Regions from separate parts of the Homo sapiens genome. Here regions 1, 2, 3, 4, 5 and 6 are each reported to be linked to region 7. Evidence: microRNA targets listed by miRTarBase, many of them from high-throughput screens and not tested one by one. Region 7 holds a microRNA gene; each other region holds the end of a gene's coding sequence.

Evidence for each region. The annotated mature microRNA hsa-miR-661 reads UGCCUGGGUCUCUGGCCUGCGCGU and lies in region 7 at 1,149-1,172, shown strand. An mRNA with a match to its seed (bases 2 to 7 or 8) in the 3' UTR can be bound and repressed. Matches are read on the target gene's strand: a 7mer-m8 pairs with bases 2 to 8, a 7mer-A1 pairs with bases 2 to 7 and ends in A, and an 8mer does both.
Region 1: the mRNA of PRSS21 is a reported target of hsa-miR-661. The part of its 3' UTR that is shown has no 7-base or 8-base seed match.
Region 2: the mRNA of NT5C2 is a reported target of hsa-miR-661. Seed matches in the 3' UTR shown: 7mer-A1 at 2,348-2,354.
Region 3: miRTarBase lists ARK2N as a target of hsa-miR-661. Seed matches in the 3' UTR shown: 7mer-A1 at 2,098-2,104.
Region 4: the mRNA of KLHL21 is a reported target of hsa-miR-661. Seed matches in the 3' UTR shown: 7mer-A1 at 2,288-2,294, 7mer-A1 at 1,165-1,171, 7mer-A1 at 883-889 and 7mer-A1 at 550-556.
Region 5: miRTarBase lists TACR2 as a target of hsa-miR-661. The part of its 3' UTR that is shown has no 7-base or 8-base seed match.
Region 6: miRTarBase lists MON2 as a target of hsa-miR-661. Seed matches in the 3' UTR shown: 8mer at 2,323-2,330 and 7mer-m8 at 877-883.

Annotation. Positions count from the first base shown.
Region 1 is chr16:2,820,390-2,824,665 of GRCh38, reverse strand. PRSS21 (serine protease 21) reads right to left here. Exons shown (of 6, transcript NM_006799.4): 5 at 3,557-3,711; 6 at 2,947-3,300. The coding sequence ends at 3,061. It also overlaps the pseudogene EIF1P4. Among named protein-coding and RNA genes, the nearest start is that of PRSS21, 5.3 kb to the right of the region's middle. RefSeq lists enhancers at 3,633-4,132, 4,133-4,276.
Region 2 is chr10:103,086,756-103,091,031 of GRCh38, reverse strand. It overlaps NT5C2 (5'-nucleotidase, cytosolic II), which reads left to right. Exons shown (of 19, transcript NM_001351169.2): 17 at 36-96; 18 at 245-421; 19 at 1,124-2,994. The coding sequence ends at 1,360. CNNM2 (cyclin and CBS domain divalent metal cation transport mediator 2) reads right to left here. Exons shown (of 8, transcript NM_017649.5): 8 at 810-4,276. Among named protein-coding and RNA genes, the nearest start is that of NT5C2, 100 kb to the left of the region's middle.
Region 3 is chr18:46,261,522-46,265,543 of GRCh38, reverse strand. It overlaps ARK2N (arkadia (RNF111) N-terminal like PKA signaling regulator 2N), which reads right to left. Exons shown (of 5, transcript NM_145055.5): 5 at 1-2,615. The coding sequence ends at 2,426. Among named protein-coding and RNA genes, the nearest start is that of ARK2C, 70 kb to the left of the region's middle. RefSeq lists an enhancer at 3,479-3,980.
Region 4 is chr1:6,590,642-6,594,770 of GRCh38, forward strand. KLHL21 (kelch like family member 21) reads right to left here. Exons shown (of 4, transcript NM_014851.4): 4 at 83-3,017. The coding sequence ends at 2,724. Among named protein-coding and RNA genes, the nearest start is that of KLHL21, 10 kb to the right of the region's middle.
Region 5 is chr10:69,401,097-69,405,185 of GRCh38, forward strand. It overlaps TACR2 (tachykinin receptor 2), which reads right to left. Exons shown (of 5, transcript NM_001057.3): 5 at 2,807-3,988. The coding sequence ends at 3,730. It overlaps HK1 (hexokinase 1), which reads left to right. Exons shown (of 18, transcript NM_000188.3): 18 at 1-786. The coding sequence ends at 39. Among named protein-coding and RNA genes, the nearest start is that of TACR2, 14 kb to the right of the region's middle.
Region 6 is chr12:62,591,792-62,596,067 of GRCh38, reverse strand. MON2 (MON2 regulator of endosome-to-Golgi trafficking) reads right to left here. Exons shown (of 35, transcript NM_015026.3): 35 at 1-3,482. The coding sequence ends at 3,319. Among named protein-coding and RNA genes, the nearest start is that of MIRLET7IHG, 8.8 kb to the left of the region's middle.
Region 7 is chr8:143,942,102-143,946,377 of GRCh38, reverse strand. MIR661 (microRNA 661) reads left to right here and starts at 1,099; the gene lies at 1,099-1,187. It overlaps LOC124902040 (a long non-coding RNA gene), which reads right to left and starts at 2,514. Exons shown (of 2, transcript XR_007061144.1): 1 at 2,208-2,514; 2 at 1-812. It also overlaps a transcript of PLEC not described here. RefSeq lists silencers at 2,198-2,467, 3,538-3,997, 4,218-4,276 and an enhancer at 3,068-3,317.

The sequences.
Region 1 (4,276 bases), not on the chromosome of region 7:
CCCCTACATTTACCACCCAAATTCAGACATACTGGAGAGTAAAAGGTGACAGTGACACCCACGCAATCCCTGCCTCTCCAGTCCTCAGCATTCTCCTGTGTGGGTGTCACTGCATTTGTCCATGTCCCGGACCCTCCGTCCACTCATTGGTTCATCTTCTTTCCTCAGACGTCAGGTGCAGACCTCAGTTCACTTACCCTCAGGGACTTCCACATGCGTATCGTTAACTAGACTTTTGGGGGGTTGGGCTTTTCCCAGTTTGAAGCACAATTTGCATACAACGAAATCACAAATCTCGAAGTGTATATTCACAGGTTTAAAAAATATTTATGGATTCCGGACCACCTGGCTGGGCTGGGGCATCTGGCAGGAGGTCTGGGGCTAACTGCCCACGTGAGACCAGCCTGGACAACAAAGTGAGAACTTGTCTCTACAAAAAATAACTTTAAACAACTTAGCTGGTGGTGGTAGTGTGGGCCTGTAGACCCAGCTACTCAGAAGACTGAGGTGGAAGGAGCCCAGGACTTCAAAGTTGCAGTGAGCTAGGATCACGTCACTGCACTGGCTCCAGTCTAGGTGCCAAAGCGAGACCCTATCTCTTAAAAAAACAAAAGCAAACAAACAAACAAACGAAAAGCAAACAAAAAACTAGGCCAGGTATGGTGGTTCACGCCTGTAATCCTAGCACTTTGGGAGGCCGAGGCGGGTGGATCGAGAGGTCAGGAGTTTGAGACCAGCCTGGCCAACATAGTGAAACCCCGTCTCTACTAAAAATTACAAAAGTAGCTGGGCATGATGGCACTCCCAGCTACTCAGGAGGCTGAGGCAGGATAATTGCTTGAACCAGGGAGGCGGAGGTTGCAGTGAGCTGAGATCGTGCCATTGCACTCCAGCCTGGGTGACAGAGTGAGACTCTGTCTCAAAAAAAAAAAAAAAAAAAAAAAAGGATGACAGGCAAACTGGCTGAAAGCTATTGTAGCCATTAAGTAGCATTTCATGACTGGGTTGAAATAAAGCAGAAAACAGGGCCAACTCTATAAAAGGGACCACTAGTACAATTTGAACAAGTTGTGTTAGCGATATCGCCAAAGTTACCCACTAGGTGGAGTGAAGCATGTTTTTAGGTCCAGTTCTGTTAAGTTACCCAAAGCAGTTACTGGCTGTAAAATTTTAATTACACATTATCCTGTCAAGGGAGAAAGGTGCGCATTAAGAGAGGTAAGTGGACCACCATGATACGGAATCTCGTTTTGATGGTCTTGGGAAAAGCTGCAGTATGAAGCCGGCAATTTTGCAGTTAAAATGTCTCTGGTTATGGCCTTGGATGGTTGGTGAACTCTGTGCGGTCCACACATCAGGCACAATACTTGTCCCTTGATATTTATGTTAAGTTGTTTTGTTTTAGCTCGCAGGGCATTTATGAAAGAGCAGCTTCCAGTTTTAATAATTCCGTAGGAGAAAACTGGATTGGAGGAACTTAGAATTTAGGGTCCAATATAGTCTACAGGTAGATGATAAAACTGATCTATAAACAATTTAAATATGACATTCCAAAGCCTTCGTAATGTTACAGGATCTCTGGGGTGTTGTTTTTCTGGCTGGAAATCTGTGGCTGTTGGCGCCTTGGCCCGAGTTTTGCCCGTTTCCACTGAGGAAAAGGAGTCATCTCGTATGTCCACTGTCCAGAATCTCCACTCTTCCACCCCTTTGCTGATTTAAGTAAGAGTGATGACCTGCTCCCTGCAGGCACTGAGGAATACATCCATGCAAGGATTTAACAGAGAAATGACAGGAAAACCCTTAGCACTGTCTAAGCGATCACTAAGGATTACAATAAAAAGCAACTAGTGAAGGCATTTAAGAGGAAATTTCCCTGCAATGGGACGGTAATTGAGCATCCAGAATATGGAGAAGTCATTCAGCTACAGGGTGACCAGCGCAAGAACATATGCCAGTTCCTTGTAGAGGTGGGACTGGCTAAGGACGATCTGCTGATGGTTCAAGGGTTTTAACTACTTGTGGCTCACTGAAACTTAAGTGAGGATTTCCCTGTAATGAGTAGAATTTCCCTTCTTTCCCTTGTTACAAGTTTTAAAACCTCACAGTTTGTCTAATTTAACCATTTGAGGTCTGCTTTTAACTTGAACTAGTGTAATTCCTTTATGCAATAAACTGCAAAAATAAAAATAAAAAAATAAAAACATCGCTAAGGGAGGACCATGATTTTCGAACTTGGAGCCAGCTGGAGTCCCACAAGGGGAACCATTATTGCCTACTTTCTGGGTGCTCAGAGCCTCACCTCGGGGCTGCCCCAGCTCTGAGGCATCCCGTGCCCCAGAACTACTCTCAACATGGTGGGGGGAGTGGTCAAGAGAGAAACGCCCACCGTGGTGTCCTTGTCCTCAGTGGGCCAACGCTGAGGCCCCCACAGGATTGCACCCCAGTTGCCTAGAATGGTACCCTCTATGTTTGTGTAAGCTCATTGGTGTTCCTTCCTTCCCTGCCTCGGTTTCCCCATTTCCTGCAATCCCCTCCCAGATAAACTACCTGCACCTATGTCCTGGTCCTAGGTCAGCCTTGGGGGAACCATAGTAAGATCAGGATGTCTGGCGTTTCTGTGCCGGATCCTTGTGGGGTGAGGGATGTCAGGATTGTTTCCTCCAATGCACACACCCCCAATCCAGGCTTCCCAGCTCCTGGCACCCTGGAACTACTCCTGTTCCATTGCTGAGCATGATGTGCGTCTATAATTTCAGCTACTCAGGAGGGTGAGGCGGGAGGATCGAGACCACCCTAGGCGTTCAAGACCAGCCTGGGCAACACACAATTCTCTTTCTGATCGAAATAACCAGATGGTTCTATGGTGCAGAACAGATGTGGGTGTGAGCCAGGGGCACAGACAGGCTGTCTGCACAAGAGAGAATGAGCTGTCCATGAAGCCACTGCTTTTGAAGAATGCCCTGCAAGGCATCAACTGGAATGTGTTTATTACCAAACAAGACAGAAGAGAACCAGGGCCTGACTTGGCAGTGGCCCCAGGCTGCATGGGCTCAGGTAGGCTCAGACCGGCCCCAGGAGTGGGAGAGCCCAGAGAAGAGGGAAAAAGAGTAGCGGCCAGGAGGGGTCTGGCTGGGACATGCCACTCTGGGCCATCAGCTTCTGGATCCACTCAAAGTGGTGGCTGATATTGGTGTAGACACCGGGCCGATTGGGCCGACCACAGCCCACTCCCCAGCTCACGACTCCAATCTGATACCACAGTCCATTCTTGTTACAGGCCAAGGGTCCACCTGAGTCACCCTGGGGAGCAGCGGGGCTGAGGTCAGCCTGGGGCAGAGTGAGTGGGGCAGGGGAGGGGCTGAGAGTGGGAAGGGCTATGGGGCTGGGTAGACTGGGTGCACATCCTCCTCCTCCCCCTGGCAGCAGCCAAGCCTCCGTTTCTGCATCTGCAGAGTGGGGCAACAGTCTCCACCTCCCGGGGTTGGCATGAGGGTCAAATAAGGCACAGGGACACAGGATGCTTTCCTGGGCTGGGAGTGGTGGCAAGGACACTCACGAAGCAGGCATCCTTCCCGCCTTGGGCATTGCCAGCACAAACCATGTCTCCAAAGATGTCCTTGCGGAAACTGTACTTGAGGAAGAGGTGGTTGCACATAGAGTTGTTTATGATGGCGACCTGAACTTCCTGGAGGGTGTGGGGAGATGGCAGTGCTGTGCGGACGATAGTGGGAAGGAGAGAGACAGCAACCTGAGGCCCCTCTATGGAGGGATGGCATAGGCTGCGGGGGTGGGGGCCCTGGGGCACCCACTGTGCCTGGCAGGTTCATCTCCATTACCCCCAGCTCCAACCCAGACCCCAGCACAACAGAGGCCCTCAGCAGCATCACAGAAGGCCCCGGGGAGGGACAGGCTGTCAGAGCTCCCCCAGCCGCACTTTCCCTATCTGTAGAATGGCAACAATGGCCCTGCCTGCAGCCATGGAGAGATTCCTCAGCCAAAAGGAGCCGAGGGAGGGGCGAAGGCAGCTGAGACGGTGTTCAGATGAGCATCCAAAGCCAGACCTGGGGGAGGGGCAGCCTGGCTGCAGCCCTGGCCTCAGTAGCAGCTGGGCGCTTTCCAGGCCTGGACACAAGCTTGTTGCAGCACTCTTAGGGACCCCCAGCACCCCTGGGAGGCGGCAGTCATCAGGACCTACTCCCAGATAAGGAGAGTCAGGGGGATATTGCCCCGCTGACCCCCAGCAAGGCACTGGGGAAGTTTCAGAGCCTGACAGGAG
Region 2 (4,276 bases), not on the chromosome of region 7:
CAGAGATTTTCACTGAGTTTTTCTTTTATCTTTAGGCATCTTGACAGCAGTAGCAATGAGCGTCCAGACATCAGTTCCATCCAGAGACGTATTAAGGTATCCAAATGGGATTTGGGAGAAAACTTGGGAAATAAGTTTAAATGCTTTTTTCACATTCCTGATTTATTATAGAGACTAGCATTCAACTACTGCTCAATAAATATTTGTTGAATGAGCCAAGAATCAATCTTGTTCTTTGTTTTAGAAAGTAACTCATGACATGGACATGTGCTATGGGATGATGGGAAGCCTGTTTCGCAGTGGCTCCCGGCAGACCCTTTTTGCCAGTCAAGTGATGCGTTATGCTGACCTCTATGCAGCATCTTTCATCAACCTGCTGTATTACCCTTTCAGCTACCTCTTCAGGGCTGCCCATGTCTTGGTGAGTTAAAGCTGTAATGGACAGCCAAGATGTACTCTAAGCCCAGGGTCAGCAACCACCTTTGTGAGATGGCACAGGAGATAGTTTGAACATTTCTTTCTGATGTACAGAGCCCAGGGGCAGGTTATATGGTTGCATAAGAAGGGGTCTTTGAGAAAGTAGAACCAACATTGGAAGTTAAGAGTGTAACTTTACTCTCTGAAGTCTACTCTATTAAAAGCTGTATGTGGGCCAGGCATGGTGGCTCATGCCTGTAACCCCAGAACTTTAGAGGCTGAGGTGGGAGGATTGATTGAGCCCAGGAAGTCGAGGCTGCAGTGGGCTGTGATTGCTCCACTGTACTCCAGCCTGGGTGACAGCGAGAGACCATCTCAAGAAAAAGAAAATGTGGTTTTTACATTCCTTTATTCTGATCTGTTTCAGGACTATCTTGTTTTTGCTGTAAAATAGAAAGTAAACTCCCCTCTCCATCTTTTCCAATTTCCAGCTGCAGTAGACAATATGGGCACCATTTTGAGGGGCAGGGAGAGAGGAAGACAGGCAACTATAAGTAGTTCTATGAAGATAAGTCTATATTGACTTGTCCTGTGGTCCATTATAGATGTAATTGCATGGCCACCTAACAGAGGAGAGGGGTTAGGATTTGGGGAGTAGCTACTTTGCTCTGCCTGCTTTCTGAGCCTCTAGCTTTTTTCTGTCTAGATGCCTCATGAATCAACGGTGGAGCACACACACGTAGATATCAATGAGATGGAGTCTCCTCTTGCCACCCGGAACCGCACATCAGTGGATTTCAAAGACACTGACTACAAGCGGCACCAGCTGACACGGTCAATTAGTGAGATTAAACCTCCCAACCTCTTCCCACTGGCCCCCCAGGAAATTACACACTGCCATGACGAAGATGATGATGAAGAGGAGGAGGAGGAGGAAGAATAAGGAGGAAAACCAAAACCCCAAGCACCCATTAAACAAGTCCTGGCAGGACTCACAGGAACAAACGAGGTCCCTGTTAGGGTTCTACTCGGGGGAGGGAGGGGGCTCCATGAAAGGTACGTCTGAAAAGTTTCTGAAGATTTTATTATCATAGATACTTGTTTTGGTTTTGTGTATCTGTACTCTCTGCAGATGGTCCAAAATTGTAATGGAGTCTGTATTAGAAGAAAATAAGGGTAAAATCAGGCTGAACTGCATGTATATGGCTCCACTGTGGCTTGTGACACTTTTAAAATCATCCGTATGTCAGTGTATCTGGATACACGAGGAAAAGGAAAGAGTCTCAGAGTGGAACAAAGAGTGGGAAGAGGTGATCTGTAATGTTACAAATTGTGCTATTACTCCAAGGTCCAACTTTTCCAGTGCATTACATGGTATTGTATATCAGTGGAGAAATGTATTATTTCCATGATCAAATGTAGTCTCTGTTAAGGTCAAGTTTTCTTTTATAAGCCTTTAATTCATCCTCAGTGACTCTGGCAAGGCTGCTTCTCTATCACTGGCTTTGCACAGAAGTATGCTCTACTTGCGTTGCTTTAGGGCAGGATTCTATTTTGAGGGAAAAGACAGTATCCTTATTACCTTTTGTTTGTTTAATAGCACAAATGCTTATTTGTTATCCAAAAACAACCTCCTTCTTATCTGTGATAAATCTATAGAAAGAATTTAGCTGCAAGTGGACAAAGGAACAAGCCCCCAGAAAAGAAAGGGAAGAACTGCCTTCTTATACTACAGAACATGCATTAGTGTGGGCTATATAGCTGTGGCTCATGCTACCCAATTCCAGATTTCTTTGTCCTCTAAGAGTTGATTGCTGTATATTAAAATTGAACATCAGAGGATGGGAAGAGGGCTCTGTAAGCCAGAACCTTACTAAAGTAGAGGGCACAATCAGTGTGAATAAATTCACTTCAGAATCTCAAGTCAAGGCCAGGCACGGCGGCTCACGCCTGTAATCCCAGCACTTTGGGAGGCCGAGACAGGCGGATCACCTGAGGTCGGGAGTTCGAGACCAGCCTTACCAACATGGAGAAACCCCATCTCTACTAAAAATACAAAATTACCTGGGCGTGGTGGTGCATGCCTGTAATCCCATCATCTACTCAGGAGGCTGAGGCAGGAGAATTGCTTGAACCCAGGAGGCGGAGGTTGCAGTGAGCCAGGATTGTGCCATTGCACTCCAGCCTGGGCAACAAGAACAAAACTCCATCTCAAAAAATAAAAATCCCAATCCCAAGTCGAAATCACCTCTTGTTTTAAACAAGAATGAATCATTACTGTGTATGTTAGGGTATTAAAACTGTTTCACCAGTACAGTGAAAGTTGTTTCAACATTTTAAACAAACAGTGGTTATAGACTCTTTCTTTAACCATTGTATATTTTCTTCCATTCTTGTCATTGGTCAATAGGGGAGGGTAGATTAGCTGCTCCAGAATTCAATAAAGTGTAATATTTCTAACGGTGACTTTGACCTATTCTGTAGTACAACTGTAATAGCTATTGGTCTTCAAGTGGGTTTAGATTTGGTGACATCAGTTTGATATTCTCTTAAAGGAAATAAATATTCAAGAACTGATTATGTTCTAACATGATTATATTCATGGTGTTACATAGGCCTCAATTTTTTCACAGAAAGATTTTTGGAACAGGACTGTGAAGTGAGGCTTTTTAAAAAATTATTTTATAAGCAGAGAACACAGCCTGATAACTTAGTCAAGGATATACTGTCTGTCTCACTACTTTGGACTTATATGGCTTCAGATTAAGTCATCCAAGAAACATACATACATTCTAAATGGTATATATTGGGAATATATGCCCCTTTAAAAGAATCAGGTCAGAAATGCAATAACAATTAGACTAGACTGTTGCCCGTGTTAGGAGAATGTGTGGTCATCCTAGTTACTAATTACTCTCACTCAAGATGGAGATGTTGTCCAGTTTAACATAGTCTTAAGTTTTCTTAAACCCAAATAATTTATGAGTAGCTTATTACATCTGCAGAGCTACCTTATTATAATAGTACATTTACATATTGTCTCTTTTAGAGTAAGGACCACATGATTGCTTTGCTTTAATTTACCACTTTTTGTATTGCATCCATATAAGAGTGTCTTACTAGCCAGATGATTCCATGGCAAATGATTCTCTGGGTCCAAAGATCGGAAAGTGAAAAGCACACAGCTGGAATAAGCAACAACTCCACTGCTAGTTACAGCTCTCCGTAGGACCACCAAAACGTATTCAAGAGCTCTAGGATTCCATAAGACCCAGAGCAAAATGGTGCCTCTCTGTATATTATTCTTAAGAGTGTGCTGGGAAGTCAATGGTCCATGGGTAGGCAGGGCAGCTGTAACTGGGCTTTTTAAAACAAATTATGAGTTTTCTCTCTGTTGCCAGTAGTTAAGGAAGCTGAACTTAAAAGGTATACTTTTTTCCTTAAAAAAAAAAAAAAAAAAAAAAAAAAAAAAAATCCTGCGGAGTTTTATACCGTGAGAAGACCATTCTGCCACTTCTTTTGAGAATTTTTTCCCAGGCATTTTGAAAACACTATAGGCATTGTAGAACACCAGGCAACCCCTTCTTGGTTGCTAGACTGAACTCCCAACCTTACAGCATGTACTGACAGGTCCCCTAGCCTCCCCAGCAGTTGGTCAGTGGTACAGCAGACCCAGGCCCTGCTGGGTTTCCTTGGGCAGAGGAATTGCCCAGTACATTCATTCATCTCTGCAAAGATAGATAGTCAGTGAAAACTCTGATGGTGTACTTCAGAAAAGTTGGTCACAGCCAAGAAAGTTTAGGGTTCTATTTAGACCTAAGATTTTTCTCTTGCCATAAGCATACCTCTGCTGAGACCT
Region 3 (4,022 bases), not on the chromosome of region 7:
TCAGGCAGTTGGGAGCTGGACTAGGAATAAGTGAGGCAAAAGTGCAAGCTGACATAAAGGCAAAGGGCCAGAGAAGAGACTGGTTACAGCTCCACTCTGTTCCTAATCCACAGTGCACACAGCACGCCAACTCTGTAGAGGATGACTATATTAGGGACTATGAAGAAAATATGTCACACGGGAAATCACCTGCTGTGTGGAATTGGGAAAAAAAATATGTGGTTAACATAAGAACAGGTCATGCAAAAACATTCATTAAAATGGGCCTCTGCCCTGACAGTGGGGGAAAAAATAAGCTGCAAAAACTTCAAGTCACATCATCCACTCTATTCTCTTCTCTATGAATTTCCTGGAAAACACAGACCAGAAATTGTACATTTCTGCTTTGTCTAGTATTTTAATTCAAGTCAAAAACTATGTGTAACAGTAAAATTCAATAAATTAATCCTAAAGTAAAATGTGAAGGTCCAAGGATACACCAGTAGTGAATCTTCAGAAGGTCCTACTTTGCTCTGGCCTCTGGGTCTTTGGTTTTTGTCTAGAATTGTGGCCATGTGAGAGACTGATATATGAGTTGCTAAAGCTGGAGGTTCATGATCTTAAAAGCCTTATCTAACAAAAGCAGAAAATAAAAATAAAAAAAATAAAAGCTGATGAAGGACAGAGGCCAGATCAAATGAGATGCTATCAGAGAAGATCAAAGAACATATGCACAAATACATTCCTGTGGAAGAAGGAACATACAGGAGAACTAATGCAACAAGAAGCGTAAAGGAATAAACTTGTCTTTACAAAAAAAAAAAAAAAAGAAGAAGATGAAGAAGAAGAAGAAGAACAGGCTGGGCAGGTGGAGGCAGGCAGACACTGATGCATGTGTATGTGCGGTGTGTGTCATTCATCTCAGCAGCCCCCAGAGCACCCACCCCTCACAGTGCCTTATGCAGAGCAGGCACTTGGTAAATTTGTTTGCTGAATGAAAACTGAAAATGGTAATTCTCATACTCTTAATGATAAGAAGAGCCACCAGGGGATTTGGAGAGACAGGCAAAGGGCCATAGCAACGGTAACAATGGAAACAAAAACAAAAACAAAACAAACAAAAACCATGAAAAACAAAAGGTGAAGTCTTCTAAGCCAATATTACTTCACTCCCCCTGTGCAGAGTACATAGTGTTCTAACTCTAGGTATTGCTTTTAAAAGAATTCACTAGTAACTACAACATATTATAAGAAAGAAGGTAGTAACTAATGCCACAAAATTCCAATGCTGGCATTTCCTGAATTCCCTGAAGCTCCTGCTACCCTTTGCTAATCCTTTTAGACTCTGTAAAACTTACCAATGACATTAACGTGCTTTGCATCTGATTTCTTATGGTACATTCTGATTCTTCTTATGGTATTTTTTTTTAGAAGGTAGAGGAGAAAAATACCCAAATACAGCATCAGGTCCACTTCATCTCGGATGTTAAACAGTTGTTGCTACATACTCTTTATACAGAGACCAGCTATGAAAGACGGCACTTTCCTCTCGGATTTGCAAGTGCCTGTAGCCTCAGAGGCCACATAACTTTTCATATTCTTCCCAACAGGTTTCTATGTTCACCCGTTATTTGACTAAACCAGAAAAAAAGGCGAGGGAGAGAGATTTTTCCCACTGAACTCTTAATACCTTCAGATGCCCAGAACACCTCATGGTGGGTATCTATCTGAAATGCCTCTGTCTCAAAGGAGACATTTTGCAAAGAGTTATTAATTATTGCAACAAGGAGAACAACTAGGTCACCTTAGTAGTATTTATAAACACAAAGGGACATGTCAATTATCTGTGCTGTGGGAAGTCAACAGGAGCAAACTCAAGAAAGAAGGCAGAAGACTTAAAATAAAAGAAAATATAATTTTAATACTTCTGTCTTCTATTTTTAAGGACAAGTTTTTAAATGCACATGCCCTACTAGGTGCCAATAAGGACCTGACTGATATGTGTGCGAATGCCCTAAGATGGGAGTGCCAATGGGGTGGGCAGATAGTGGTCAAGTCTAGATATTAATTTCATTATACAGAAAAATAAATACAAGATTCAAAAACTGAAACCCATTTTGCCTGGCAATTAAAATATTATTCTAAAAGGAAGGCAGAGTTTCCTAAGATTAAAAGTCACCAAGTAAAATAAAGTTGTCTAATAAAATTCATCATTCTATATTCCTACTGAGGGAAAGAAGAAATTCTTTTCTCTGTGATGTTATTTTCCTAAGTGACTTCTTTTAATTAAAAAAAGGGGGGAAGAGGAGGGAATTTTCCATGAGTTTGAATCCTACAAATGCCACAAACAGCTTCTGAAGCTGAAGCTATGACAATGAACTTCCATGTCACAAAGAGGATGAGGAAGTGGAAGGGAACAGTGCAGAGGAAACACAGTGACATTGTATTACAGTAGGTATTTACGCCTGCTATCCTCATCCAAGGTAAGGTCAACAACTTCTGCTGGTGAAGCCCAAGTCTGCTGGGGAGTCACAGCAGTCCATGACTGTGTTTGCCTGGTGCTAACATACTGCGTGCCCGAGCCATGCTTCCATGAAGAAACACTCTGAATCACACCACCTCGAGGATGAACACACCTGCAATTGAGATGAAGAACAAAAGCATGGTTAATTCCACCACAGGAAAAACAGAAGACAATATGACCTCAGTTGTACTTATCAACATTTTTACTAAGATAAACCTAGTATGCAAGTTCATAAAACCCACAATCAATATCCTTCCCTCCATCTCTGTCTCCCTCTCTCCCTACCCCACCACACCCCACTTGGTCCCTCTCTCAGTTTAGCCTTAAAAAGGCCAAGGGTCTTATCTCAGCCAGAAACTCCTGAGTTGTGTCACTGACCATGGGTGACAGGATGTTTCTCTGGACTCATTTACACCTCTGGGATCTTCATGATAGGGCAACACATAAATCCAGAACAAAGTTAAGATGCCCAAACAATCTTAGTCTGAACAAATCAAACAGTAAGAAAAATAGTTAAAACTTGTTCTTAAAATAAGCTTTATAATTGGTAATAATGCCTTCAAAGACAGTGACAGTAATACCCTTTCACAGATTAAATTTCTAAAAGTCTGTAAGTAATAGATCATGAATAAAGGATCAATTTCCCTTGTCCTGAAGGTCACAACAGAAGCACTTGGTTCATTCAACAGAATCGCTTATAATTTGGTTCCGTGAAAGTAACACAGCTGAATCTTCAGTTTAGATCCACTAAAAGGGTTCTATCGGAGGGAGAGAACTGCCTTGTTAGCAAGTCACACCAAGAGTTCACTGAAATAAAATTGTTTCAGAAACACTGACAGTTTGAATTCCACAGTCCAGTCAAATGATAGAATTGTGAACCTCCAGGCCAAAACACTAAGTTCTGACTCAAATGAGAGGAAGGCAGGCAACTCATGTGATCAATGCTATGTCCTCTCATCTAAACTTCCTGACCAGCCCTCAGGTAGCTTATGTGAGAAGTAACAAGTGGCATGAGTCTAGTCACTAAACTACCACAGTGGCTCCTGAGCAGCTGTTTGACAATCTGTAAGCAACAAATAATGCTGGGCCACTTGAGAATTTCAGCTTTGGTTTAATGCTACCTACACCACCAGATTCAAAAGAACATTAGGGTAACAATGGACACGATTCAGTTGCAAAACTGCCCCAAGGACCCTTAAACTCCTGCAAACATGCCCTACTCCTACAAAGGCTTAATCTGATAACTTCTCCCTTACTAAGAAAAATTCCTAAGAACAGATCTCTCAGGGCCAGAGCAGAGGGCAGAACGCAAATTTGCTACAGTACCAGAAGCCCGTCATCTGTCCAGAGATGGGCTATGTAGTTACTAACCCAGAGGCTACTACCTTTTCAAAGATTAGCTAGAGAAATAAATAGGGACATTAAAATAAGGGACATAAAGCCCAATGTCTAATTCACATCTGTTCAACCCATTATATAAATTCATATTAAGTGACCATGTAGTCATGGAAAAATGTCA
Region 4 (4,129 bases), not on the chromosome of region 7:
TGCTGCCTGTTCCCCTGACATCTGTCCTCAGCCCAAGAGTCCCAGAAGACAGTAGCAGGAGGACAAAGGCAATGACTCCAAATGGATAGGAAATACTTTTATTGCAAAAAGTACTGAAGGTACCCTAAAACCTTAAGCAGGATTCTGGACATGGAAGCCTACAGAATAGACAAAAATAAATATGTCAACCTGCCCGACCCTCTGGGGTGAACTGGATGTGGACACTGGAGGGAGGGCGTCCTTTATTACATACGCGTCTCTGAAGTCATATAAATATAGAATACCTTATAGTAGATCAGCATTAAATACCAGTCACTGTGTTTATATAACTTAATTTGTGCTGTAGACAAAGTTCTGTACATGTAACATGTGGCCATGCCCAGGCATCCCAGCATCTATCCTGAAGTCAGTGTAAAGACATCCTTAAGTGGTGGAGACATGACAGCCCAGAACCCACAGCAGAGGGAAACTGGGGAGAGGAGGGGGCCTGACCCTGGATCCCCCAGCTGGTGTCCACAGGCTAGAGGGACCCATTGCTGCAGAGGCTGGTGCCTGGTTTTCCCCATACTTGGTCTTCTAAACCCAAAGACAGGGTCCTGATGGTGGAGACCTGGGTAGGTCCGGAGGACAGACACAGGAGAGGGCACAATCCCAAGCGCAGCTCTCCTGCACTGGCTCGCACCACAGCCCTCATCTGAGTGGCCGACACAAGCCTGGAGTACGGCAGCTGCCAACCACAGCAAAGCCGCAAAAAAGACTGAGAAAACAGGAACCCAGAGTTCCACAGGGGCAAGGCCTCGCAGACCAGCCAAGCCCGAGATGCCCTGTGCTGGCAGTCATCACAGTCTGGACAGCATGTCCTTCCGTGGGTGCCCAGCTCAGTGCCTGGAACGGTCAGGGATTGAGGGCGTAGCCAACCTTGTATGGCCAAACCCAGCCCTTACGCCCCTGCTGACAAGGGAGACAAGCTGCCCCGCTGAACTCCAACAACCTCTGGGTGGGCTCAGCAGCCCCTAGGAAGTTAAGCGAGAGCTACAGGGCAGGGGGGCTCCCTGAGGGAGTTTGCACAGACCAGGAGGGGCCAAGGGGTAGCCCCAAGGGAGCAGAGGAAGGAGAAGGGCAGGAAAAGGTCCAGGGCACAGGGCAAGCAACAGTGCCAGAGGGTGCCTGGTCACAGGAAGCCCAGCTGCATGTTCCATGCTGCCCACAGGACTCCCAGCCAGGCCCCAGCAGGCCTGGACAGTGCTGGGCCCCCATCCTCGGCCTTCCCAGCACAGCAGGTGCTGGAAGATGACCATGACCCAAGCGAGAAGAGCCGCCATGAACTGTGGTCATACCAGCCAGGGCGTTCTAGGACAAGACTTCCTAACCCGACAGCAATGACATCCACAGTGTATGGACTGGGCTCTTGAGGAGCACGAGGGAGAGGCCAGGCAGCCCTGTCAGGGGTCCTGGGACATATTAAGGCAACCAGCCACGCCATCTGGCCAGCACAAGGGACTTAAGTGCAATCTGCTAAGTGACAGTGCTAAGACTGTCTTCCTGCTGAGAACATCTCTACGAGTTAGTTCACTAGAAAAGGCAATAAACATTTGCTTTAACCTTCTTTAACCAGGAAAATGCAGTCTAAATGCCCTCTTCTCTAAAAAGGAGGCAAGGACAAAAACTCAAGCCAAGGCTACTTTGGGTACTTTGAGGGGAAACTGACCATTTCCAAGAGAAACCCAGGGGCTGCCAAGCTGCGGCATTCACCCTCCTGCAGAAAGCTTTGGCAATGGGACTTCTTAGACTGGACAAATCAAACAAAGCTGACCCTGTAGAGCTCCTTCTTCTTCCCACTTCTTCTAAGGTCAAACTGCAAGCATTTTCAACTTTGGAACCAACCACCAAAGCCACCTCCTGCCCAGGACTTCCTTTAGAAGCAGTGGGACTCCTCACGCGCAGGCCCAGCAAGGGCTTGGGCACCCGCAGCTGTCTGCTTGGCTGGGTGTCAATGATCACCTCCCAGGGCCTCCCGGGAAGGAGAGGGTGAGAGGTGAGGACGCAAGAGCCAGTCAGGGGGTAGGAGCAGGGGGCTATGGCTGAGGAGGCCCAGCATCTGATAGGACCACATCCTCTTCACCCTCCAAGCCCACACCCCTGCTCATGTCCCACTGTTCTGGGTGCAGCCTCTGGAGGGCAGCCCTCTGAGGTGTTTTGATGTAAGCCCCTGGCAGGGGCCAGGAGCTAGGGAGGCAGGCTCCCCACACCTCTGGACATGGAATTTGGGACCCCACTTCAGCCCGTCTGCCTGGTCCGCTGCTCCAGGTTCAGGCCATCCTCAGCCTCATGGGAGGACCCCTTCTCCCTTCACGCGTCCCTCCCAAGTCATCGTCCTCTCCCAAGGTGGGAACAAGTAGGTGCAGATGACAACGGCAGGAGGGGTGTGCGCCGCGTGGGTGAGCTGTGATCCGCGGGGTGGGGGTGACCTCCAAGACCCAGAAACATGTGCTGGCAGGAAAGTGGCTCTTCCTCAACTGCAGGGAGGGCGTTCCCGACGGCCTCTGATTCAGGCTCTCAAGGTACAGAAACCTTCCAGGTAATGGATCCTGGGCTGGCTTCGCCACCCAAGAGCCTGTGCTCCTCCTGTGAGCCCAACGTGTCCTTGTGCACAAAGGAGTGGGGCACTGCCCCGCAGAGGTGCCAGTTACCTGCACCGAGGCCCGTGCCGGGCCAGACTGGGGCTAGTGCAGCTCATCGGGGTCCCGCGGCGGCCGGGGTCGGCCTGGGTCCATGTCATCGCTGCCACTGTCCAACTCGAAGCCACGCCCACCCGAGAAGGTCTGGGGCATGAACTGGCGGAAGATGCTGACACTGCCATGCCAGAAGGTGGGTTCTGGGAGCCGCCCCACCACGCTCCACGCGCGAGTCTCTGGGTCATAGGCCTCTACCACGTCCGAGAGTTCAAATGTATTGTCGTATCCCCCAGAGACGTACAGCTTCCCCCCAAGGACGGCCAGGCTGCCCCCCACATGTACCTGTGGGCCAAAGGGATGAGTGAGTGGAGGTCAGAGGAGAGGGTAGGGCAGGGCCCCACCTGGGGAACCACTGGAGACAAGGCATGCCCTGTCAGTACCCCAGAGGGGTGGCCTTGGCTCTCCCAGAAAGCAGCAGAGAGGCCAACCCCTTTCCAACACCCTGCCTAGGAGAACGGGCCTCCCCGGAGGCAGCTGGGCCTTCCCTATGGTGATGAGGGTGCCCGCTGCAGCGCCAGGCCTCCCCGTGTGCAGGTCGTGCCGAGCAGCGCTTCCTACGTTCTCTCTCAGAATCTCTGCAGTGGCCCTCTGGGCTGAGCAGTGCTGTTCTCCCCATGTTACAGATGGGAAAACTGAGGCTTGCATGGCTGACAGTGGCAGAGCTGGGCTCTGAACCGCGAGGCTGGATGATTCCTTCCATCTTTCCCAAATTCGCTATGACTATGTGCAGCTTACTGCGGGGAAAACAGAACGCTGGGTCTCTTAAATGCCAGGACATTAAGCTGTGATGTAAGCTGTGAGGCTGGATGTCACGGAGTGTAGGTTTGGAAATGTTAACAGACACACAGGAAAGAAGGCTGTAGGCAATATGATGTGTACCTCAGACTAACACTGCTCACATGGCCAAATGGCACTGAAGCCTCCCTGTCCCATCACTGTCAGGCTGGGCACCCCTCTTCTCAACAAGCCCAGAGAGAAGGGGTGGACCCTGGTTGTCCTATTCAGAACACACAGCAAGTGCTCAACACAAGTATTCCCACAGTGGGCTGGGCATGGTGGCTCATGCCTGTAATCCCAGCACTTTGGGAGGCTGAGCCAGGCAGATCACAAGGTCAGGAGATCCAGACCATCCTGGCTAACACAGTGAAATCCCGTCTCTACTAAAAATACACAAACAAAATTAGCTGGGCGTGGTGGTGGGTACCTGTAGTCCCAGCTACTCGGGAGGTTGAGGCGGGAGAATGGCGTGAACCTGGGAGATGGAGCTTGCAGTGAGCCGAGATCGTGCCACTGCACTCCAGCCTGGGTGACAGAGCGAGACTCCGTATAAAAAAAAAAAAAGTATTCCCACACTGACTTCCTCAGGAACCAGCTGGGCGTGGTGGTTCACGCCT
Region 5 (4,089 bases), not on the chromosome of region 7:
GCCGTGGGCGTGCGGTTACGCACAGAGGCAAGCAGCTAAGAGTCCGGGATCCCCAGCCTACTGCCTCTCCAGCACTTCTCTCTTCAAGCGGCGACCCCCTACCCTCCCAGCGAGTTGCGCTGGGAGACGCTGGCGCCAGGGCCTGCCGGCGCGGGGAGGAAAGCAAAATCCAACTAATGGTATATATTGTAGGGTACAGAATAGAGCGTGTGCTGTTGATAATATCTCTCACCCGGATCCCTCCTCACTTGCCCTGCCACTTTGCATGGTTTGATTTTGACCTGGTCCCCCACGTGTGAAGTGTAGTGGCATCCATTTCTAATGTATGCATTCATCCAACAGAGTTATTTATTGGCTGGAGATGGAAAATCACACCACCTGACAGGCCTTCTGGGCCTCCAAAGCCCATCCTTGGGGTTCCCCCTCCCTGTGTGAAATGTATTATCACCAGCAGACACTGCCGGGCCTCCCTCCCGGGGGCACTGCCTGAAGGCGAGTGTGGGCATAGCATTAGCTGCTTCCTCCCCTCCTGGCACCCACTGTGGCCTGGCATCGCATCGTGGTGTGTCAATGCCACAAAATCGTGTGTCCGTGGAACCAGTCCTAGCCGCGTGTGACAGTCTTGCATTCTGTTTGTCTCGTGGGGGGAGGTGGACAGTCCTGCGGAAATGTGTCTTGTCTCCATTTGGATAAAAGGAACCAACCAACAAACAATGCCATCACTGGAATTTCCCACCGCTTTGTGAGCCGTGTCGTATGACCTAGTAAACTTTGTACCAATTCAAAGACCCGAGTGATGCTTAATGGCTGGGGACGGGGGGACAGGCAGAGGGGGGTGCAGTTTCTTGGGATGTGGCAAAGACCAAACACTGGGGAGTTTTGTGGCCTTCTGGGCGGAGGAGTTTTTTTTTTTGAGATGGAGTCTTGCCCTGTCACCCAGGCTGGAGTGCAGTGGCACAATCTCAGCTCAGTGCAACCTCTGCCTCCCGAGTTCAAGTGATTCTCCTGCCTCAGCCTCCTGAGTAGTTGAGACTACAGGCGTGCATCCCCACACCCAGCTAATTTTTGTATTTTTAGTAGAGAAGGGGTTTCACCATGTTGGCCAGGCTGGTCTCCAACTCCTGACCTCAAGTGATCTGCCTGCCTTGGCCTCCTAAAGTGCTGGGATTATAGAACAAGGCCACTTGGCTTCCAGGCTGCTTGGGTTCAGTGAGAGGACTGCAACACTGGTCCCCTCTCTGCCATCCCCACCCGGATCCTGCCCTTCATCTTCCTCTCTGCCAACCCCAAGACAAAGGATGAAATGTGCTCTGCCCCACCCCTCCCCTCCCTCTCTACCCAAACACAGATGAAATCTTGAAGCAGCCCAGGCTGGCTGCACGCTCCCGCTCCCGGATCTTTTTTCTTTATTTTTTATTTTTATTTTCTGTAGACAGGGTCTCACTGTGTTGCCAGGGCTGGTCTCCAACTCCTGAGCTCAAGCAATCTGCCCCCCTCAGCCTCCCATAGTGCTGGGATTATAGGCGTGAGCCATCGCTCCCGGCCCACCCCTTCTGGATCTTAGATTGACCTCATCCCTAGGAAATTAACCCTTGTCTGACCTTTTACTCTCCCTTCCCACCCCCACCTCAAGAGATTCCTGGTCTATCCCCAGGCTACCATTTTGGATTCTCCCCCAGCCTTGGTGGGTTCCATGTCACTCTGCACCCAAGCACCTTGTGATGTCCCAAGCCACAGCTGCGGCTCTAAGTGGCTTCCTGCGAGACCGATTGCCAGACCACCTGGTTTGGTGAGATCAGAGTCCCTTTATTAGGGGCATGGTGCTGGTGTCTACGGAGCAGTGATTTTTTGGAGAACACAGATAACATTACACCTTCCAGTGTGCATTGACAATGTTACATGGCTCTTCTGCAGGGGAACCAGGGCGTGGAGGCTGAGTTGGCAAGCAGGAGGTGTGCCCCTGGGATGGGCTGGGCCAGACCGGGAGCTTTCTGGGAGTTGGGACAGTTGCTGCTTTCTGCCCTCTAGCTTCTTGCTGCAGAAGTGGGAGTGGGAGCTGTGCTGCTGCTTTGTAGGTGGCTTTTGTGTGAAATAGTTAAAAGTCATGGCTAACAGCCAGGTGTGGTGGCTCACATCTGTAATCCCACCACTTCAGGAGACAGGCAGGAGGAATGGTTGAGCCCAGGAGTTCAAGACCAGCCTGGGCAACATAGCAAGACCCCATATCTACAAAAAACTTAAAAACTAGCTGGGTGTGGTGGTATGTATCTGTGGTCCCAGCTACAGGGGAGACTGAGGCAGGAGGATCCCCTGAGCCCAGGAGGTTGAGGCTGCACTGAATCATGATGGTGCCACTGCACTCCTGCCTGGGTCTCAGAGTGAGGTGAGACCCTGTCTCATAAAAAAAAAAAAAAAAAAAAAGAAAGTCCTGGCTACCATGTATTGGGCACTTAATCTGGTCTGGCCTGCTAGTTTATAGGCATTACTCCCATTGTTCCTCACAGCATCCCTGTGAAGTAGTTTTGATACTGGGCAGAGGTCAAAGTGACTTGCCTGAGGAAACACAGCTGATTTTTTTGGCTCTTAATCACCATCTACGTGGGCTGTATCTGACTTCTTAAATACTGAGACAGAGAAGCCCTCAGCTGACTCAGTCACTGGGCTTTGTGAAATAAGAAGTTTCCTCCTTTGTATCCACAGCCTGATGGCGAATCAGGGTCATGGTTGCATTGCCCACAGATACGTTTTGTTTAACTTATGCAAAGTTTATGAAAATTTGGGTCAAATTCAACAAATCTGGAAGACTCACATACAAATGTGGATTTATAGCTTCTCTTGAAAGATTTAGAAGATCTAGCAACAGTGGGCTCCCATTATCATGTGGCAACGTTTGTCCAGAGCTGAGTAGTTCTTGTCCCCTTTGAATGCCTGTCCTCTCCAGGTTGCCATGGCCCCCACCATTCCCTATTAGCTCAAACTGAGGGTGGAAGTCAGTTGCCTTTTATCATCACATTTGCAGTTTTTCTTTTATACATATTCTTGTATGCCCCAGGAAGGCATTTGAGCTTGCATCTCTTAAATTAGATAAATATCAGCTTACACTGTCTTTTCTGACCCTTACTGGATCCTCTGAAGTGCTCTCTGAGATGGGTGGCTGAGTCCTCTTAAAGTCAGCATCCTTTCTGGAGTTCTGGCCCCATGTTGTCTTTGTATTGGTATACTGAAGGATGGGGCATGAGCTGAACTTTCAGATGTGGTCTTCTCGATTGGCTACTTCTCAAAGGGTGCTACACCTCATTCTGCAGCCAGGCACAAGGCTTCAGGGTTCAATAGGCACCTATCTCAGTCCATTTGTGTTGCTTTCATGGAATACCTGAGACTAGGTAATTTATAAAGAAAAGAGGTTTATTTGGCTCATGATTCTGGTGGCTGGAATATCCAAGATTGGGCAGCTGCATCTGGTGAAGGCCTCAGGCTGCTTCTTGTCATGGTGGAAAGTGGAAGGGAAGTGTTGTGTGCAAAGAGATCACATGGTGAGAGAGGAAGCAAGACAGGGAAACTGAGGACACCACACTCTTTCTAACAACTTGTTATTTTGGGAACTAGTCCATTCCCACAAGAGTGATGATTCACTTCAACTGGAAGGCATTAATCTATTCATAAGGGATCCATCCCCAATACCCAAACACCTCCCACTAACCCCTACCTCCCAACACTGCCACATTGGGATCAAATTTCAACATGAGTTTTGGTGGGGGCAAGCAAACCATACCCAAACCATAGCCCTGATCCATCCTGGGGACGCCCCGCCTCCCCACTGGTAGCCTCGGAGGGGGCTGTGTCCCCAGCCATGAACAAAGTCTCCTTAGTGTGACACCTGTTGACTCTCGTGGAGAGGGAGGTCGTGGGAGTCAGCTCGAGCTTATCTTCCTTGGTGGGTGTGACCCATGGGCAGCAGCGGAAGGCAAGCCGGAATCCAGAGCGAAACCTGGGGGAGCGAGGGGCACCTTGAGCCAGGGAGTTAGGGGCTCAGGAGCTGTGATGTGACTGCCCCCACCCCCAGGAAACTGACTCCCTTCCAGAGGAAAG
Region 6 (4,276 bases), not on the chromosome of region 7:
CAAAATGCTCTTTAAAATTATACTGAGAAAGGACAAATAATCTAGTTGTTACTGGCCTGCTGTAGAAATAATTTAATTGAATATTATTCTCCAGAATAAAATATCTACACTAAATTGTTCATCTCTTTCTTCTGATGATACATACAAATTTAAGGAATATAGCAAGAGTTGAATCGATAACCATATAATGGAAAAAACAAGAAACAAGAAAGATGTTAGCTGTTAAGTGAATAAAATTAAAAATGAAAGCAAGTGAAAAGTGGTTCTAAGCTAGACTTTTTTATGCCTTTTGTTTGTTTTGGAACCTAAAAGGCTCCTAATAAATGTTACAAATGTATACAATAAAATTAACAAAACCTTAACACTAGTTATAAAGAAATACTAAAGACATTACAAAATGATGTATTTTTTTCTCCCTTGGCAGTGGTGGTAGCATAGGAAACTAAGAAGTAATCTATGCAAGTTAACAATTAGTTTATTTCCTTTATAATGGACAAAATGGCCAGAAAAAGACTTTATTAATCATACAATTGGTGGCATATGTCTGTTGTCCAGCAATATGAATAAAACAGGCACTGGCAGTGACAGCAAGTGACGATGTGAGGCTTAAAACTCATGGTATTGGCTGGGCGCAGTGGCTCAGGCCTGTAATGTCAGCACTTTGGGAGGCCAAGGCGGGCAGATCACCTGAGGTCAGGAGTTCAAGACTAGAATGGCCAAAATGGTGAAACCCCATCTCTACTAAAAATATTAAAAAAATTAGCCTGGCATGGTGGCATGTCTGTAATCCCAGCTACTTGGAAGTCTGAAGCAGGAAACTGCTTGAACCCGGGAAGCAGAGGTTGCAGTGAGCCAAGATCGTGCCACTGCATTCCAGCCTGGGTGACAGAGCGAGACTCCGTCTCAAATGAAAAAAAAAAAAAAAACTCATAGTATTTCTAGTAAGTATGACAAAGGACATTTTTACTACTGCTTAAAGGGCTGGTTATAGACTCAATTGTGCCATAAAATGATCTTATCTTTGAGAGCTTCCTTTTTGAATCTCCTGGCATCGAATACTTTCACACACCCCAGTTCTTCTAGTCACTGGAGAACCCAATTCATACTAACAAGACAAGGGCAATGTGTTCCATGCCAGCAATCAATTACTGTAGTGACTCTTGGAGGGTGACAGGAAATATTCTGGAGGAAAATCCTGTCCAATTATACTACCAAGGGGGCCACCCACTTGCTTCACACTAAGACTGGCATTTATTACCTTATTATATGATATTAACACATTCACTATGTTTATGTTTTGAACTGTAGGGCATGGTCCTGATAAAGCAAGCTTTGGTTCATATAAATGTATATTGCATACACTTGACTCATATTTAACTATTTAATTATCCTAATTGCAACTGATCTTTTATTTCTCAAGAACAGACCATTTTCCTTTGAATAAATGCATAGCAATATTTTTAACATGTTACTGAATCGGTACACTACCCTTGGGTTATTCTGTTTCAATGCTTTATCAGTGATTATGTGGATTTTTCTAATCCTCAATTTAACACACCCAAATATAGAAAATAAGTACATAGCTTGATTTTTTACAACTTTAAGGAAAATGCTGAAAGCAGAACTTATGAAATGCCATATTTTACCTTAATTTTAGGTGAAATAATAAAATAGAAATTCAGTAATTCATGTAAATAAAAAATATCCCCTCAAAGACCTTACTACATTTTACAGATAATGCAAATTAAATAATTATACAATTATAATAGCCTCAAAACTGTATCTCAATCATGACTCAATTATAATATCTTTTTGCAGTTTTATGATTATTCTGGAGAAGCTGAAATTTATAAATTCTATTAAGATCAAAGACCTTCCAATACACTAAAATAATACTGAGACCATCATGATTTCTTATGAATAATCATTGTTTTAAACATCTTTGTGTCTTCACATAAATTATGAAAATTTAACTCAGAAGAAAAATACTGTAATCCATAATCCATTAAATAAAAAATACAGTGAGCTAGGTCAAAGTCAGTATTTTAAGAAATAATTAAGGTATTGTACTCAAGAGCACTTTTCTTTTTCACTAGGCTAGGAAAGTGAAACATAATTAGCATTTTACTCCGTGACAGCAAGTTCACTGCACTTCTAAATGCTTGACTATCTCCAAAAATACACTTTTCATTGTTTTATAATACACACATATTTTATACTTGTGAGTTAACATAGGTATTTTTCTTGAGAAGACATTACAAAATGAAGCACTGATATGAACAAAACCTCACAGGCAAGATTTTAGAAAATCTGAAATCATCTTGCCTGGGTCATAATTCAAAGACAGTGACAAATGTTGTTAGGGGAAACAAAATCAGTAGAAATATAAAATATGAAAAGTCTTTAAAATCCAGACAGCCAATATAAAAAACAGACAGACTTCAGTGAAAGCTTGGAGAGCTGTTTAAAGAAATGAGGTATGATGAAGTCATAGTGCTACAATATGTATCAATGTATTAAGAACCTATATTTCAAAGCTCCAAAATCAGCAAATCATAAACTATTTGCTGCTGTGTTCACATGACCTTACTGGTCAGATGTTTAATGGTCACTAATAATACATTTAAAATAAGCATGAAGCTAACTGCATGATCATATGGTGAGCTTATCCGCCACATATGAAGGCAAATTATAAGTAAAAATGTAAGCAAACAATTTTGTATTAATAATAAATAGAGCTTTAAGCATTTAACATTATCAATACTTTTAAAATTTAAATAAATGCACTATTTTATACAGAACTGTACCATTTATTATACACACAAGTATATCAGTTCCCTTTGTTAACAAAGGCTGGTTATAGATAATATGGAATGTTACAGTACCATCTTGCATAAAATTCTAGTACGATTTTGTACTTGAAAAAGGGTGCAAAAACACCAGACTAATAAATCTGACTGAATTGAAATATCTCTTCTTTCTTTTTAAAAAGTACATCATTAACACATACACCACAAACTGTACATAAGCTCACTTTAAATCACCAACTGGAGATATGGTAGCATGTATACTGTAGTGTTAATTATCCCTCCCATCAGTTTAATTTATTAAAGCCTTACACTGCTGTTCATTCAGGAGCCTTTGTTGATGTGCAAGCCTGTAATATGAATTACTGAACTCAGGTAAGTAGAATTTAAAGGAGGCCAACAACAGCTGCCAAGAATTATCTGCAGTAAGAAATGTCCTTCTCACAGAAGACTCAATTAGGAGCAAACATTTTTTAGACTATCTTCCTGCTTTCAAATATATTGTAGCCGGTCAAGATTCTCCATTTTGAACTCTGGATGCTGGTGGCTGCATGAAATCCTTAAAAGGAACTAGTGCCTCTTTAAGTGCAGAACAGACTTCTGAAGAAGAACAGGTGATGCATTCTACTAAAGTTGGGTATAAGGCAATTACTTGTGCCCAGGTATTTCCATCAACTGTAATGCAAAAGTATAAAACCTCAAAAGGGTGGAATTAAATAGAGATTATTCAATTAACATGAACACAATCCTTTAAACTGCATGTAAAGAAAAAACTCTGAAACATGAAGATTCTACAAGCTTGTATCTTTTTATCTTTTTAATTTTTCAAAGATTTCCTGCTATATTTAATAAGGTATGGGAAAAAATATATGCTCAGTGTGCAGTCATCAGTAACAATAAATTTGATAAAGTACATTTTAAATGGTATTTCAATTTGTGAAGGCTCTGAAAGCTAACAAAGCAATTCAGAACAATCCAAACCTTTGTCATTTTTAATATAATTGCGAGAGGATGTAGTGTACATTTCAAGAATTAGAAAATAACTTTTTCAGTTGTCTGCTAAAAGTAGAAATCTTTTGAAATACAAAATATGTTTAATGATTTTCCCAGTAATATCCTTGATATTCCTTTTAATTACAAACTGTCACAAACAGATCCATTCTTGTCTTGTACTGTTTGCTAATCTTTAATGTATATCATTAGATGTAGACTTGAGTGGGGAGGAACCATGTCTGGCTTCTTCACCACTATCATGAACAAATAGTACAGCTAAATGCTATTGCTACTGAAAGGACAAAAGTGTTATATCCCAATTAGTTATATTTTCCTATAAGTATTGTGCATAATGTTGGGCACCCAATATGCAAGATTTTTTTTAGACTTTTAGGTATTTTTAAAATTTTGTGAAACAAGTCTCAAATCTAAGAGGCATTATAGTATTAAAGAAAAATAAATACTATGTGTAGAGA
Region 7 (4,276 bases):
ATGGAGGAGCTGATTCAGCTGGGCCAAGGTAGGGCAGGCAGAGCTGGGGGCTGTGGGAGGCAGAGGAGAGGGCCGGGGCCGCCTCTGGCAGACCTGTCTCTTCCCGTTGTCCACCGTTCTGTGCCGTCAGACCTGGGATGCAGGGATAGGCACAGCCCCCTCTCGGAGCTGCCCCAGGGGTGTGTGTGATGTGTGTCCCGGAAGCACAGGCCTGTCCGGACCTCCGTGGAGTGGTAGAAGAACTGCCCGCTGCCAGCCTGGGGCACTCCTCCCGCCAGGAGCTGGTTCTCACCCAGGCCATTGAGTCAGGCTCCTCTGAGGCTTCCCCAGCACGTGGCAGGGAGTGGGCTGAAACGTCCGGCCTGTCGGCCCCTGCCCACTGCTGGCCAGATGCTGTCCTGGGCTCAGCTGGGAGTTGGGCCCTTTCTGGCATGCCTGGGTATCCCTGACCCTCAGGGCTGCCTGGGCCCGCCCGACCCCTGGCCGCCCAGAGTGGGCCACTGCAGGCATTTCCCTCGGCCGCACGTTTTTGAGGTGTGGGGCTGGAGAGCAGGAGGCTGGGGTGGGCCCGGCCCTCTTGTTGTCCGCGGGCTTCCCAGCATGGACCTGGGTGGCCTGCCCAGTGGCCCGGGGCCAGGCTGGTTCACTGTGCCTTGCTGTGGGCTGAGGTAACTACACTGGAGGCCACCTGGGCTCAGATGGCAGCGTGCGGGACAGCAGGCGGCGCCTCAGGCTCCTGGTCTGTATGAGGCCTTCATGGTATAGGACTTCATGGGGTTTGCTGAGGGTTCCATGTGGTGCCAGGAGCGACGCTGTGGAATGGGGTATACCGTCAACGTGCATTCTCCTGGGCCTGAGGGGTGCGCCCAGCAGACAGGGGTCCCAGGAAGAGGAGCAGGACTGTGCGTGTCCCACGTCCTGTTTCCCCGGCTGCATTGGGATCTGATCTGCATAGGATATGCTGTGGGCCTGCCTGTGGCCCGGCTCTCTGACCCAGGCCTTCCACAGAGCAGGGCTTCGGGACTCCTGGGTGGAGCCAGGCCAGTCTCCTGCCGTGGCCCAGGAGAGGCGTCTCCATCCCAGATCCCTGGGACCCCAGGAGAGGCTGTGCTGTGGGGCAGGCGCAGGCCTGAGCCCTGGTTTCGGGCTGCCTGGGTCTCTGGCCTGCGCGTGACTTTGGGGTGGCTGTCCCGGCCACCGGTGGGGCCAGGTGCTGTGTTGAGTGACCTGCGCAGGGCCCTCTGGGAGAATGGGCGGCCTCTTCTCTTGGCCCCTGTGGCCTTTCCAAGAGCACCCCCTGGCTTGGCAGGGCAGGTGGGTGGGGACTGCACCGCCTCCTGCAGGGACGTGAGCCCGCACCTCCCGCGCCCTGCTCTATTATATTAGAACCCCCTGTGGGAGCTGGGGGACCGAGGTGTCGGGTGGCACCGTCCAGCCAGACCTGACTGCAGCGGGGCCTGGGTGCCCTGGCGCCGTGCGTCATGTTCCAAGTCTGGGTGGTGACGGTCCTTGCGCGCCCTCCTCGGATATTTATATCCCCTGGGCCCCTGCCCACTGCTCCCCTCCCCCACAAGCTGCTGCTGACAGCAGCACGGCCGTGCCCTCCTCCCACCCGACGCTGCCGCCAGTGGCTTGTGCCTCCTCCGAGGGGCCTGTGACCTCCCACACCCCTGGCCCGCTCCGTCTGCCCCGTGGGCTCCTGCCACCGTCCCCGATGAAGATCGTGCCCGGTAGGTGGGCAGCCCTTGAAAGCCTTGTGAAATCCTGGCCCCTTGCTGGGGACAGGGGCCAGAGGGCTGGGGCTGAGGCTGGAGGCCAGGGGCGCTGTCCCTCGCCCTGCACACAGCCTGCCTCATGTGCCCTCACCCAGACCCCCTCAGCCCTGGTCTGCAGTCTCACTTTTGGGGTGTTGGGGCTGGTGAGGAGGGCGAAGTTGAAGGAGTGCAGTGGGTTCAGCTGCAGGCTTGAGGTGGGGGCTCTGGCATCCCTCCATGCCTGCCAGCTGTCCCCAGAGGGCAGCCTTGGAGGCAGAGTGGGCTGCTCGGGCCCCTCTTCTGGTGGGGACAGCAGGGGGAGGCTGGGAGGGAGGGAGGGTGTGTGCCGAGGCCGCGGGCAGTGCTGGGGGGCTGCGGCTTGGCCAGGCGTGCGGCTGGCCCCTCCTCCCGGCGGGTGTGGCCGCGGGGACGCAGGGGTTAAGGCCAACTAACCTTGAGCGTCAGTAGCCCTGCGCAGGGACAGCTGAGCCGGCCGGGTGGGGAGCGAGGGTGGGGAGGCGCCGAGGGCCGGACCCGCGGAGGGAGGAGGAGAGGAGGCGGGCGGGAGCTGTTGTGGGGCTGCCGCCGCGTATGGGGCGGTCCTGCGGGCAGGGCAGGCTCCGGTCCCGGCGCTCCCCCTCGCTCGCCCTGCACGCAGGGAGGGGGCTGTCTAGCCTGGAGCAGCCGGTTCCCAGCGCAGGAAGGGCAGCCCTGGCGGCTCCGCGTGGCGGCTATGGAGCCCTCGGGCAGCCTGTTTCCCTCCCTGGTGGTTGTGGGTCACGTTGTCACCCTGGCCGCTGTGTGGCACTGGCGCAGGGGACGTCGGTGGGCGCAGGACGAGCAAGGTAAGCCCCGCTGGTGGCTGCCAGGGACTCGAGGCGGGGCAGAGGGGCCGCCTGCCTCCCGCCCCTTCATTCCCTGCGCCCTCCCCTTCCTGTTTCCAAGCTGAATGTCAGTGAAAGCAGTGTTGCCCCTCCACCCCACCCTGCAGTGTAGACCCTGACCCTGCTGCAGTCCCAGGGCGGGGCGGGCTCTGCAGTGGCCCTCAGCCTGCAGCCTGTGCGGGACAGGTGGGTGGAAGCGGAGGCCGGCAGGGCAGGAGCGTCCCCCACACGAAGGGAGGCCTGTGGCAGCCGCCGTGGCAGGGACAAGTGGGCAGGTGCCTGTCCGGCCAGCACTGAGGTGGAGGTGGCTCCCTGCACACACAGCAGGGGGTGGAGCCACACGCAGGTGAGGCAGGTGCCCTCATGCCCTCGGGCCGCACAGGGGGCGGGGGCAGCCAGGCTGTGCCCTGCCCTCCCTGCTCAAAGTCACCAGCTCCTGGGCTGTGGTCCCAGGTGGCAACCGTGCCCAGCACAGGATGGGGCGGGGCCCTGGGGATTGGGCAGCCTCAATTATGGGCTTCTGGCCAGAGGGACTGCCTATCGGGGACCTGGCTGGCCAGACCTCTCCTGCAGTGAGGGCGCTGCCTGGCTCAGCTCCTCTGCTGGATCCCCGGACTTGAGATGAGTCAAGATGGGGCTTCTAGGCGTGGCGCTGGGGACGCCCGGAGCTGCCGGGGACTCAGCTGCCAGGATGGGACTTGGGCTGAGGGCTTCTTCCCCATCCATGTTTTTGGCTGGGGACCAGACACTGTCCCTGCCTCCCCACCTCAGCCCACAATTGCCCCCTTCGGCCACGGTCCTGGCTCACAGGATGCCTCTACTCCCTGGTGGTGCCAGACGCGGCTCAGCTCCTCGGTTCTGCCTCCAGCGTTGTCTGCCCACCACCTGGCCCCATGCCCTGCCTTCCTCCCTGGGCCCTGCAGTCCCCACCGCACATCCTGCTGGGAGGCCCCCTCCCATGCCGCTTCAGTCCCAGGGCAGCCTCCCAGCCCGGCCCGTGGGTTGGGGCGCGGCTTCCTGGCTGCGCTGGGCGGGGCTGCGCGCCAGGGGCAGGTTCTTTGGGTCTGGGCCTCGCTCCCGCAGTGGGCGGATTGTGGGGGGGAGGTGGAAGAGGTGGAGAGCGAAGCCGGCAGCCTCGCAGCGTGGGCTGGAAGCAGAGGCGCCGCCGCGGTCCAGCTCCCCGCACTGTCCGTGGGCCGAACCAGGGCTCCGGCCGTGGCCGGCATGTCGGGGGCGGGGGGCGCCTTTGCCTCGCCGAGGGAGGTCTTGCTGGAGCGGCCGTGCTGGCTGGACGGGGGCTGCGAGCCGGCCCGCAGGGGCTACCTCTACCAGCAGCTGTGCTGCGTAGGTGGGTGCAGTGGCGTGGCCGGTGGCACAGAAGGGGCCACCATCGCTCTCACCTAGTGGGGCTGGGTCTCTGCTGGGAACCGCCGCCTGGGCTGGGATGGGGGTGGCGCCTTGGCCCGGTGCAGCCTTGCCCCCGAGCTCCGGAAACACCTGGGGAGGAAGGCGGGGTGATGTTCCCCTACCCCCATTTGTTTGTCTCTAGAGAAGGGGCTGGAGGGGGCGGGGCTGGAGGGGGCGGGGCTGGCCCACCCCCGGCTGTTCCACGTCAGCCTGGGCTTTGGCCTGGGTTTC